2 separate regions of the Homo sapiens genome follow, and region 1 is linked to region 2. Evidence: fine-mapped expression QTL. A gene starts in region 2. The other region holds a variant in brackets. All regions are shown on one strand. Distances are from middle to middle. Region 1 overlaps BEGAIN (brain enriched guanylate kinase associated). Region 2 holds the start of BEGAIN (brain enriched guanylate kinase associated).

Region 1 (5,360 bases), 41 kb after region 2:
GGGTTATTGCCCGGTGTGGGGAACACTGGACAGGGAAGGAGGTACTACCCGGGTGACCGCAGACCCTAGGTACACAGCCTGGACTGGGCAGAGGGGACACGTTCAGAGGTGTGAGAAGCTGAACCCCCAGGACTTAGTGACAGGGCTGTGAGGGGTAAAGAGGGGTCACCATGCCCACCCCCCGGGTGGGGAACGTGGAGGGCAGTGAAGGTGTGGTGGATGTGGCTGCATTGGACGGGTTGGGTGTGGAGATGCCTGAGGGCCATAGGTGGGTGGCTGGACGTGGTGAGGGTATGGAGCCTGACAGACACCCCGCTGGAGTCAGATGGAAACCTGGGAGGGGTCCCTGTGCAGCTGGCTTGGAGGGGATTTGGTCTGAGCATGCAGGGCAGGGGTGCAGGTGCAAACCGGGGCCCCAGGGAACAGCCCGGGCGAGGTCGGGAGGGGCCTGTGGTGTGATCGCCGGACCAGCAGAGGTGGGGAAAGACGTGGCAGGAACCCTGGGGCGGCCAAGTGCGGGGCATCAGCTATGCCTGGGGACGGGGTGCGTGTCCATGGCCCGATGCCTGCAGCAAGCGGACACTGAGGCAGAGAGGGGTGTGAGAGTCAGGGGCTGGGGGCACTGCTAGCCCAAAGATTGGTTGGGTGTAGCAGGTGGTTGGGTGTGAAGGACTTGGGGAGGGGGAGCAGTATTTAAGGGCTGGTGGAACAGGGAGTTGACTGCTGTATCTGGAAGGCCATCCAAAGGCCAGGGGTAAACTGAGGCTCTGTGAAGCTGCCTGACTTGTGAGATGTCTGCCCCGAGCCCACCCCATAGCCCCTTCGTCCTCCCCTCCCACACCTGCCCCGTGGAGAATCCCTGCCTAGCTCATTGTCTGCCTCCCCTCTGGACCGCAGGCTCCCGGGGCAGGGGCAGGGTTTGTCTTACTCCTGGCTGTGAGGTCTCAGACAGGTTGCTTGCTCTGAGAGGTGAGGGTAGGGACCTCAGGGTGCCCAGAAGGGGCAGGGCTGGGTGAGGGGGCACAGTGAGCTAGGGGTGCAGGTCTCAGAATAGCAAGGACCTAAGGCTGCTCAGTGAGGCCTGGGGTGTGGCTGGAGAAGGGGTGAGGACTCGGGGCTGAGGTGGCCACGTGGGTGGATGGATGACGCCCTCACCTCTTCCCGAGGGCTGTGGGTACACCAGGAGCCCCTGCAGGGAACAGTCGACTTCAGGGGCTGCTGTGCAGCCCATTGTGCCTGCCCTAGGAGCCCAGGATGGCATAGGAGTCCCCAGGAAGTTCACCACCTCCCTGGGGAGGACAGGTCTGTGTGGGAAGCAGCCTGGGACCTGTAGCTATAGAGTGCTAGAAGTGGGGCAGCCACGGAAGGCTGCCTGGAGGAGGTGGAAGGAGGCCTGAGCACTGTCCCAGAGAGCGCTCCCGGAGGCAGACCCACGTGGGCAGCTGTGGCACTTTGCCTCAGGGCTTCCCTCTTTGCTTGTTACTCTACTTCCTCTTGTGGTGACTGACTCTTGGGAAGACCCGCCCTGCCCTTCTCTGAGGTTCTCAAAAACGTAAGCGACGCTTTATTTTTATTTGTTTTTAAAAATATAGCCCTGGGCAGGAATCCAAGAGTGCTTCCTGGAGGCTTGCTGGGTGTGTGCCCGCAGTGCCACATGCGGTTTACTCACGGGGCCCAGACAGAAGATGCCTCTGCTCGGGGCTGGGGGACAGTGGTGGCCCCAGGGGGACTGGGAGCCTCCTGCCTGCCCTCTACTCCCCTCGCTTGGGTTTGGGTCGGGAATATCACAAGAACGCGGGCTTTTGCCCAAGGTCCCACAGCACATCTGGGCAGAGTCAGGGTTCCAGGCCCTCTCCCACACCTCAAGTTTCCTTCATGACACCCGGGACTTCTGCCTGTCCCGTCCCCATCTCACAGCAACACAATCCAAAAGATGTTGGTCCCAGATAGCCCCTGGGCTGTGCACCCATTGCAAGGAAAGAACTGCTGGCTGCTGACCCCACTCTGACCCAGACAACCGGAAGTGCAGCCCCTGCCTTGGGGAGCTCCGAGCCATCCCTGTTGGAGGCCCCCACACTACCCTCCTGCCTTTGCACAGCTTTAGTTCAGGTGAATTGTTGGCAGGTGGCTCGGAAGAGTGGGTCATAGTGGGTCTCTGTTTCCTGAGCATGTGGGGCTCTGCATCCTGGGGTCCTACCCTCCAGGAGACCCCATTCTGGGGGAAGAAAATAGAGCCTCAAGAATTGTCTGGGTTTCTGGAAGGCTTCCTGGAGGAAGGGGAACTTGAGCAGGCCAGGACCTTGCCAGGTTTCCCGTGCTGCATGCAGCCTCATTGGCCATGGTGGCAGACACTGCCCGGGCATGGGACATTGCCACCAAACATCTCTCTGGCCCAGAGAAGTGACCCAGGGTCCCAGGGCCACACAGCCATTTTGGGGAAAGCAGGTCTGGTCTTGGGCATGGCACTGCTGACTCTGGGCCTCAGCCATCCCAACCTAGCACTGTGGAGGAGCAGGAGTGAGGGCCCCAGTCACCTGTGCCACCCAGGGCCAGCTCTGTGATAGCCTGGGTGCTGATGGGTGCTCTTTGTACCTGGGTCCTTTAAACCGCCCCCAACACACTGGCCAGGTTCTGGGGTCAAAGACTCCTCCAGCCACCACCTGGGATTTACCTGTGTGAGGGACACTGGTGGAGTCTGAGGAACCGCCCAGGCCAGACTGGCTCAGGGTCAGAGTCCCTGACTCTGGGGCGCC[A/G]TGGTCTTCAGTGACGCCCGGGAGGCTGGGTGTGTGTGAGTGTGTGTGTGTGTGTGTGTGTGTGTGTGTGTGCGCGCGCGCGCGCGCGCCGGTACTCGCGTGTTAGTGCGGCACGCCCCGGCTGGCCTGCGGGCCTTAGTTTCCCCCGCTCAGCGCCGCGGCCCGGCCCGCCGCCGCCATGTCGTTGCAGCGCGCTGCAGGAGCAGAAGGGCGAGCTGCGCAAGCGGCTGTCCTACACCACACACAAGCTCGAGAAGCTCGAGACCGAGTTCGACTCCACGCGCCACTACCTGGAGATCGAGCTGCGGCGCGCGCAGGAGGAACTGGAGAAGGTCACGGAGAAGCTGCGCAGGTGAGGGGCGGGGCGAGGGCCGGGGCGGGGCGAGGGCCGGGGCGGGGCGAGGGCCGGGGCGGGGCGAGGGCCGGGGCGGGGCGAGGGCCGGGGCGGGGCGAGGGCCGGGGCGGGGCGAGGGCCGGGGCGGGGCGAGGGCCGGGGCGGGGCGAGGGCCGGGGTGGGGCAGGGCCCGAGGCCCGGAAAGCCGCACGCGGTGCTCCCCTCTCACCCTGGCTGTTGACTCCACTCAGATGGGGAGTCCAGAGGTTCTGGTAGGGGAAGCTCTTCCTCCAAAGTCACACTATGGAGCAGCTGAGCCAGGATTTGAACCCAGCAGATCTCCAGACCCAGACTGGTCCACCCGGGGCCCAGCCATGGTTCCCTGGGTCCTGATGGGAAAAGCTGTGTCTAGCCCGGAGATGAACCAGTTTAGGGACCCTTCCCTTGAGCGCGTACGGGCTAATGAAGTGTCGATCCAGTTGTGCTGGACTCCCTCAAACACCAAACTTTTCTAAAAGCAGTTTTCTTGTGCACATTTAAAATGGATGTTTTTCTGAAATGTAATATGCACTTTCTCATCTTCTTAAACAGAAAATGCAAGAAGCATGCAACCTTTGCTGTTGGCTTGATTTGTTTTAGGTATTTGTAGAGAATCGGCTGGTGTTGCCCCTAGGGAGGACTTGCCATAGGGAGAGGGTTTGTCCCTCTCCGAACAGCCCCAGCTCCTGAGTGTTTTGAATGTCACCCTCCATTCATGTGGAAACCAAGCTTGGGCAGTGCAGTCAGACCTCAGTTAAAATCTGGGCCCTGCCAGTTACTGCTTTAAGTAATTAAAGTTTCACCTCAGTTTCCCTATTGGCAAGACAGGGGCCATAACACGACACATAGGTTGTCTGAGGCTGGACACCATCCCCAAGCCCCCTCCCACCAGCAATGGAATCTCCAAGCACCTGATTCCCACCTGACACTCAGCTCCACTCCTCCTACCCGGCAGAACCGAGTCTTGTTCACTGTGATGTCTCCAGCCTCACCCTGGGGCCCATCACATAGTTAGTGTTAAGTTTCTTCCCTGCTCATTTGCATTTGAACTGTCAACCCCATAACAGGTTTGTAAGAATTGTGGGTCAAATGTGAGTAAACTGGCTCCGCGTGTGGATGGGACAGAGTCTCTTGTGAATAACAAGCCTTCCCTTCCCATCTTCAGGGGGTCCCGGGGTGGAGGGGGAAATACAGTCCTGGGCCCTGGCCTAGGAAAGGCTTCTACAAAAGTTTGCTTTAATGGGATGTTCTCTGCTGTGTGCAGAGGGGCACACATTCCACCAGGGTGAAGCTGGTGGGGTGAGCTCAGGAGGTCCAAATTCAGCCCCACCCTGCTCAGCAGGCTGTGCGGCCATAAGGGTCGTGGGAGGGACAGGCCTTGCATGGCAGTGACCCCCTTGCCTCCTGCACCAGGATTCAGAGCAACTACATGGCACTGCAGAGGATCAACCAGGAGCTGGAGGACAAGCTGTACCGCATGGTGAGGCCGCCACGCAGCGCCCACTCCCCCACCCCACACCTCCTTCCCGGGGGGAGCCACCCAGCTGACACCCCTGGGCCACTCAGGAGCTGGGACACAGGTCTTGCTGGTCCCACCCCTTTCTCCATGGAACATGTGGAGCAGGGTGTGTGCTCTCAGGCTAAGGAAGTACTTGGGTCCAGGGCTGCCCTGTGCTGCCTGAGTGGCGGGTGCGAGCACTCCAGCCTGGGGGTGTGTAAGAGGGGCTGTGGACGGAGGACATACACTGGGAACGGGCCCCCCAGCTCAGCCTGCCAGTCCAAGGACCTGGGCCCAGGAGGATAGGGAGGCCCGAATTCAGGCCCTGGGTGAGCCAGAGGCAGGTTTGAGCCCCAGCTCCGCCTCTCATGGGGACCCCTCTGTGGGGACCCTCACACCACCTGCAGGTGACCTCAGTGGGGTCGCCATTTTCTCTGTGAACACACTGCTGGGACATGTCGAAGAGGGGCAGGGTGTGGGTTTCTGGTGCCACTCCCTCACTAGGATGAAGAGGTTTCCTTTCTTTCTACTTTGGTGACCAGCTCATTTTGGTTTTGAAAGCAACAACCTGCCCACCTTTGTGGTGCTATCAGAGACGGGGGGTGGCAGGCCTGGGGGCTGGGCCTGGCTCTGCCTGGGTGCCTGGACACCGGCCCTTTCCTGAGCCTCAGTTTCCCAATCTGTCCAGTGAGGTGGGCTGGGCTCTATGCCAGGCACAAGTCATCTGTCCTCCGTC
Region 2 (5,360 bases):
ATTGCTTTCTGGCAGGACAGTGTTGGGGTTAGAGTCGGGTTTAGGGTTCATGTTACTGTTCAGGCTAGCATTGGGGTAGGGTTAAAGTTTGCTTTGGTTTTGGGTCCCATTAGAGTTAGGTTTAGCATTTGATATAGGTTGGAATTTGGGTTAATATTGCAGTTGGGGTCATTGTTAGATACACACTTGGGCCAATTCAGGGCCTTCTCACCACCTGTGGAGGGCAGCTGTAGCCCGATTCTGCAGGGGACTCCAGAGTTTCAGTTGGAGCACCTGTTGTTTGTGGGAGAGTGGGAAGATACCTCTCACCTTCCCATTCTCTAGGGCTCATAGTCAGAACCCTTGCTCAATCTGTTCTTGTGGGTGGGGATTGGAAGATGAGGCAGGGAACTGGTCAGCATGGCTAGCTGATGCTGGAGCCCCTGTATGTGGCTGTCTGCGGGTGCCTCACTGTCAATGACTTCCCTGACGTGCTGTCCTTTCTTTTATACTCAGCCACCAGGGCCAGAAGCCTGGCATCACACCAGGCTATTCCTATCTCCCCCACCTCCATCCATCCATGCATTCTTTGGCACATTTAACCATGAGCCCCAGTGTGGTGCCACTTCCTGCCCTGCTCCCTGACCACAGTAGAGGACCACGCATCCCAGCGGGGAGATTGATGTCCACATCAACAGACAGATCAGATAGCTCTGGAACGCAGTAAGAGACACGCAAAAAACAAAATAGGGCAACGAGATTGAGCCATGGGGATGGTGATGTCAAACAGAGTGGTCCGTAGAGGTCTGAATGAGGGCAGGGGCCTGAGGAGAGGGTCCTCCATGGCCCCAGGGCATCACCTCGAAGTCCTGCCACTTTCATCCCTTCTTCCCAACCCGGCTGAAACCTTGCCTCCTCCAGGAAGCCTGCCTGATGCCCCAGGCTCTGCTGCACTGACTGTAGTTTCCCCATCTGCAAAAAGGGGCTAGTACCACTTCCCCTACAGGGGCATTGCAGGGATGCTCCCAGACCCACAACCAATGCCTGCTTTCTCTCCGCCTTCCTAGCTTAAGGGGGCTGGAGTGGGAAGGATAGAAGAGAGGGCAGGGAGGGTGGGGACGGGAGGTGCGTGCAGCATGGGGGAGGGGCTCTCCTGGGGCCTTCCCAGGCAGGCCTGAGCTGAAGCCTGCAAGCTGCTGGAGCTGAAGCAGGAGCCGCCCCCACCCCACCCGCCCCTCCCCCGCCTCCCCAGCCATCTGTGGCGTTGGCAGCAGCAGTGCCAGGGCGGGCGGTGAACATTCTGGCACCATCTGAGCAGGACCAGCCTCTGGGGAAGGGCCGCAGCCCAGGAGGAGGCAATGTGGGCAGAGCCCTGCCTGTACCCCAGGTTCCACATCCCCCATTGGTGTTTGTCCCCTTAGGGACTGGGGAGGGAAGGGACACTGGAGCTGGCAGGCTGGGCCTCACTACCTCTCACAGGATGCCTCCACTGCTGTGTGCTGCCTGAATGGTGTCTGAACCTGAGAGGCCAGAGTGGAGGTCAGGGAGCCTGTCCCTACTCCTGCTGGGGAGACTAAGGCCCCCTTGAGCAAAGAGGCTGGTCCCGTGGTGCACACCAGCGACGGTTTGGGCGAAGTCTGTCCACGCTTCGCCCAAACTGGGAGAGCCCCGCCCTGAGCTGCCGCCTCTCATTTTGTCTTGACTGTGGTGGGGTGCACTTGGAGGCGCCTCCCTCTGTCCATTGGTTACCCAATCATGTCCCTGGGACCTGAGAGGGAGCAGAGACAGGACTTTGCTTGACACGAAGTGGCTCCAGTCAGCTGCTGGTTCTTTTGCTTGTCTCCTTTTTTTCTGGGTTTCCCCTCTTGCCTTGCTATCAGTGCCTTTTCTCAGCACTGACACTGCCTGAATGTAGCAACCTACTCCCCAGATTAAATGAGAGAGCGTAGAAACTGCAAAGCATACAACATACAGCATATAAGGATGGTGGTGATGGCAGCTCAACAGTGGGAACTCAGTGTCCCCAAACTGTACACTTTAAAAGTGGTTAAAATGGTAAATTTTATGTTTTCCATGTTTTCCACAATTAAAAAACAAAAATATACAAGGTACTCATTCGCAGCATCTTCTAATCTGCCATGTACTTGGAAATGATATAAGCATGTGTGAACCATGAGCCCATAGGTCCCGAGGGAGGATATGAGCGAAGCACACGGGCTTTGCCAGCTCTGTTTCCACCACGCAGGACCCTCCCTGGCTGCCAGTGCTCCTCCCCGGGTTCCCACGCTGGCTGCTGCTGGGCTGGCTGGGATGGAAGACCCTCATGTAGCTGGCACCCTCAGGGCTGCCCCTTGCCCGCTCTGGGAGGAGAGAGGAGGGTTCACGCTGCACCTTTACCAGGGTAGGACTGGCCAGCCTGGGCTCTACCGGGCAGGTCGGTGGGATGCTTCAGACTGGAGGGATAGGCAGGGGGCAACACTGGTCCTCCTGAAGCCACCTTCCCTTCCTGAGAGCTCCTTGGGGAGAAGGCAAGCCCTGGAAGCCACCGACTGGGGGCTCGGGCAGAGCAAGGGCAGGGTAAGGGGCAGCTTGGCCAGGAGGCACCCTTGGGAGCCAGGGTTTCCTCATCTGTAAAATGTGACTCTGCGAGGGCAGGAGCTTGGTTTCACTCGCTACTGTACCCCCTGGGGCCTACAGCAGGGCTGGTTGGTACACACTAGGTGTCTAATAAATGTTGAGGGATTGAATGGATGGACCGATGAAAAGGTTGGGCAGGTCATTACTGACAGCCTCTGGGTTTCAAGGGCCCATTCACTCTGTCACTCACCTTCGCGCCCGTGCATTAGTTCTCTCATTTATTCATTCCCCCCGCCCCCCCAGCCCCGCATGCTCTACCGCACTCATTCATTCACGCGCTCAGCCATTCAAGCTGGCGCGGGTTCATTCATTCCCTGCCCCTCTGCCATTCCTCGCCTGGCCCCCGCGCACGCCGCACCCCCGCGCCCCTGCCCGGCCCTGCGCCCACCACTTGCGCCCCGGCCGGGCGCTGCCGGGAGGACGCGCGGGCTCAGCCGCGGCTGCGCGGGGCCGGGGCTGGCGGGGAGCCGGGCTGGGGGCGGGGGGCGGGCGCTCCCTGCGGGAAGCCGGGCGGGGTGGGGGAGCCCCGGCCGCGCCGGCTCCCGGCGCGCTCGGCCTCGGAGGGGAGGGGGCGGCGGTAGCGGCGGCGGCGGTGAGCGGCGCGGCTGCCCTGGGGCCATGTGGACTGGCGGTCGCCGGCCGGGCCGGCTGCGCCGGGCGGTGAGTACCTGCGAGCCGGGAGGGCAGGGCGCGGGCGCGGGCGCGGAGGCGGGGCGGGCGCCACCCACGCCTGGGGCGGTCCCTGCTCAGCGCGGGAGGTGGCCGGCCCCCCGCCCCGCTCCCCTCCGCGCTGCGCCCCCGCCGTGGAGGCTTCACTGGCCCGGGAGGAGCCGGGCCGGGTCTCCTGGGAACTGGGCACTCTCGGGTGGGGCGGGGATGCCCAGCCTCCGCGCGCCGCCGGGAGCGCCCGGGTCCTATCGCGGGGTCCTTGCGCCCTGACACGCGCGCCCCTGCGGCGGAAGGAAAGGAGGGACGGGTGACCAAGGGCGCGGCCGGAGGACTGGGGACCCGCCGCTGTCCCGGGCGGGTGGCGAGGGTGCGGGCAGGCCTGGACCCGCCTGCGTCTGGGGGCAGGGCCAGCCCCTGCTTGGGAGGCCGGAGAAAGGCCCGGGAGCCGGAAGGAGGCTGGACCCGGGGCCGCCTCATTGAGCGTTTGCAGCGCGTGGGCGCGCACGAACCTCGGACACCACCATCCCATTCAGTACCTCGCGGCAGGTACTATCCTCCTGCCCCTTTACAGGCGAGGAAACTGAGGCTCAGGGAGGCCAGGGCCTCGCCCAGAGCGGCTCAGCCGGCGCGCTCACCCTCCCTGAGCCCCAGCACGTTGGATGGGAATTTCTGCCCCAGCGTTTCCGCTTCCTGCTTGGTTTAGAGGTGTTTCCTTCCTCGTCTGTGCCCCACCCCATCCCCAATGTGGTTTCCTCAGGGCAGGAACAGCGTGGGCGACGCGCTGGAGTCTCCTGAGCCGGCAGAATGGGAGCAGAGTGGGCACCCGGGAGCGGGGCCGGATGGATAGGGAGCACTGCACGTGCAAAGTCCGCATGGCCAAGGTCGGCCGCCAGTGCAGACTGGGGGTCCAGGCCCTGGGGGTATGGGTGGGGCGGGGTCTCCACAGCCAGGCTCCGTCGGAGGCCCCAGTGCTCTGGCTCTCTGGAGGCCATGGACAGGTTCTTTTCCTTCTCTGGACCCTAGTTCCTCTGCCTGCCAAGAGCAGCAGAGACCCCCACTACTCCCAGGGCCAGGCTCCCACGAGGACTGTGGGCAGAAGCCCCTAACAAACTGCGGTGTGCAGCCCTGCCAGGCTGGCCTTGGTCTTGCCAGCAGGGGCAACTGGCCGTTGGGGGTGGCTCTGCCTGGCATCTGTGACACGCAGGGCGGGGAGACGGCAGAGAGGGCCCCAGCAGCATCCTGCAAACCCTTAATTTTCCCGACTCTCACTATAATCAGGGCAGCTTGGAAAAGCAAGCACTGTGGCAGATGCGGCTCTGCCCGGGCTCAGCACACGGGCTCTGGGCGATGGGCGGCTGCGCTGCCGCCAAGGGCCCTCCCCAGCTTTTGTCTCATATTTATAGATTCCAAGGCTCCGCGTTCCGTTTGTCGTCAAAACCTGGAGCTGTTCGCACCTGGGAGCTGAGTGGGGAGGGGAGGGCTGCCTAGAACCTCAGCCTGGAGGATGAGTTTTCCATGCGCTGGGGTGGAGTAGGGGGACACCTGTCAGAGCCCAGGCCTGGAGAGAGGAAATGAGCCCTAAGCAATCTGGAAGATCTTCCATCCACTCTCCCAAGACTTGGGCGCAGGGTCTGGCCCACATAGCTGCCATTTATGGAACGCCTGCTATGTACTGGGCCCTGGATCAGCATTTCCACGCATCATCTCCACGGCAACACTTTGAAGGAGCTTCCCTACTCCTGCAGGCACTCCTGATGCTGAAGAGTGGATGGATGGATGAATGGATGGATGGATGGATGGATGGATGGATGGATGGATGGATGGGAGGGAGGGAGGGATGGATGGGAGGGATGGATGGATGGGAGGGAGGGAGGGAGGGATGGATGGATGGGAGGGAGGGAGGGAGGGATGGATGGGAGGGAGGGAAGGAGGGATGGATGGGAGGGATGGGAGGGATGGATGGATGGGATGGATGGATGGATGGATGGGAGGGAGGGAGGGAGGGAGGGATGGATGGATGGATGGATGGATGGATGGATGGATGGGAGGGATTGACTGAAGCCCATGAGTCCATG

What was found.
Region 1: its variant is fine-mapped to the expression of BEGAIN in blood mononuclear cells (TOPMed, PIP 0.91).

What each region holds. Positions count from the first base shown.
Region 1 is chr14:100,544,246-100,549,605 of GRCh38, reverse strand. It overlaps BEGAIN (brain enriched guanylate kinase associated), which reads left to right. Exons shown (of 7, transcript NM_001385089.1): 3 at 2,944-3,105; 4 at 4,540-4,606. Among named protein-coding and RNA genes, the nearest start is that of BEGAIN, 40 kb to the left of the region's middle. RefSeq lists an enhancer at 2,548-2,677. The variant A/G (reference allele first, on the strand shown) is at 2,754.
Region 2 is chr14:100,585,165-100,590,524 of GRCh38, reverse strand. It overlaps BEGAIN (brain enriched guanylate kinase associated), which reads left to right and starts at 3,108. Exons shown (of 7, transcript NM_001385089.1): 1 at 3,108-3,276. The coding sequence starts at 3,235.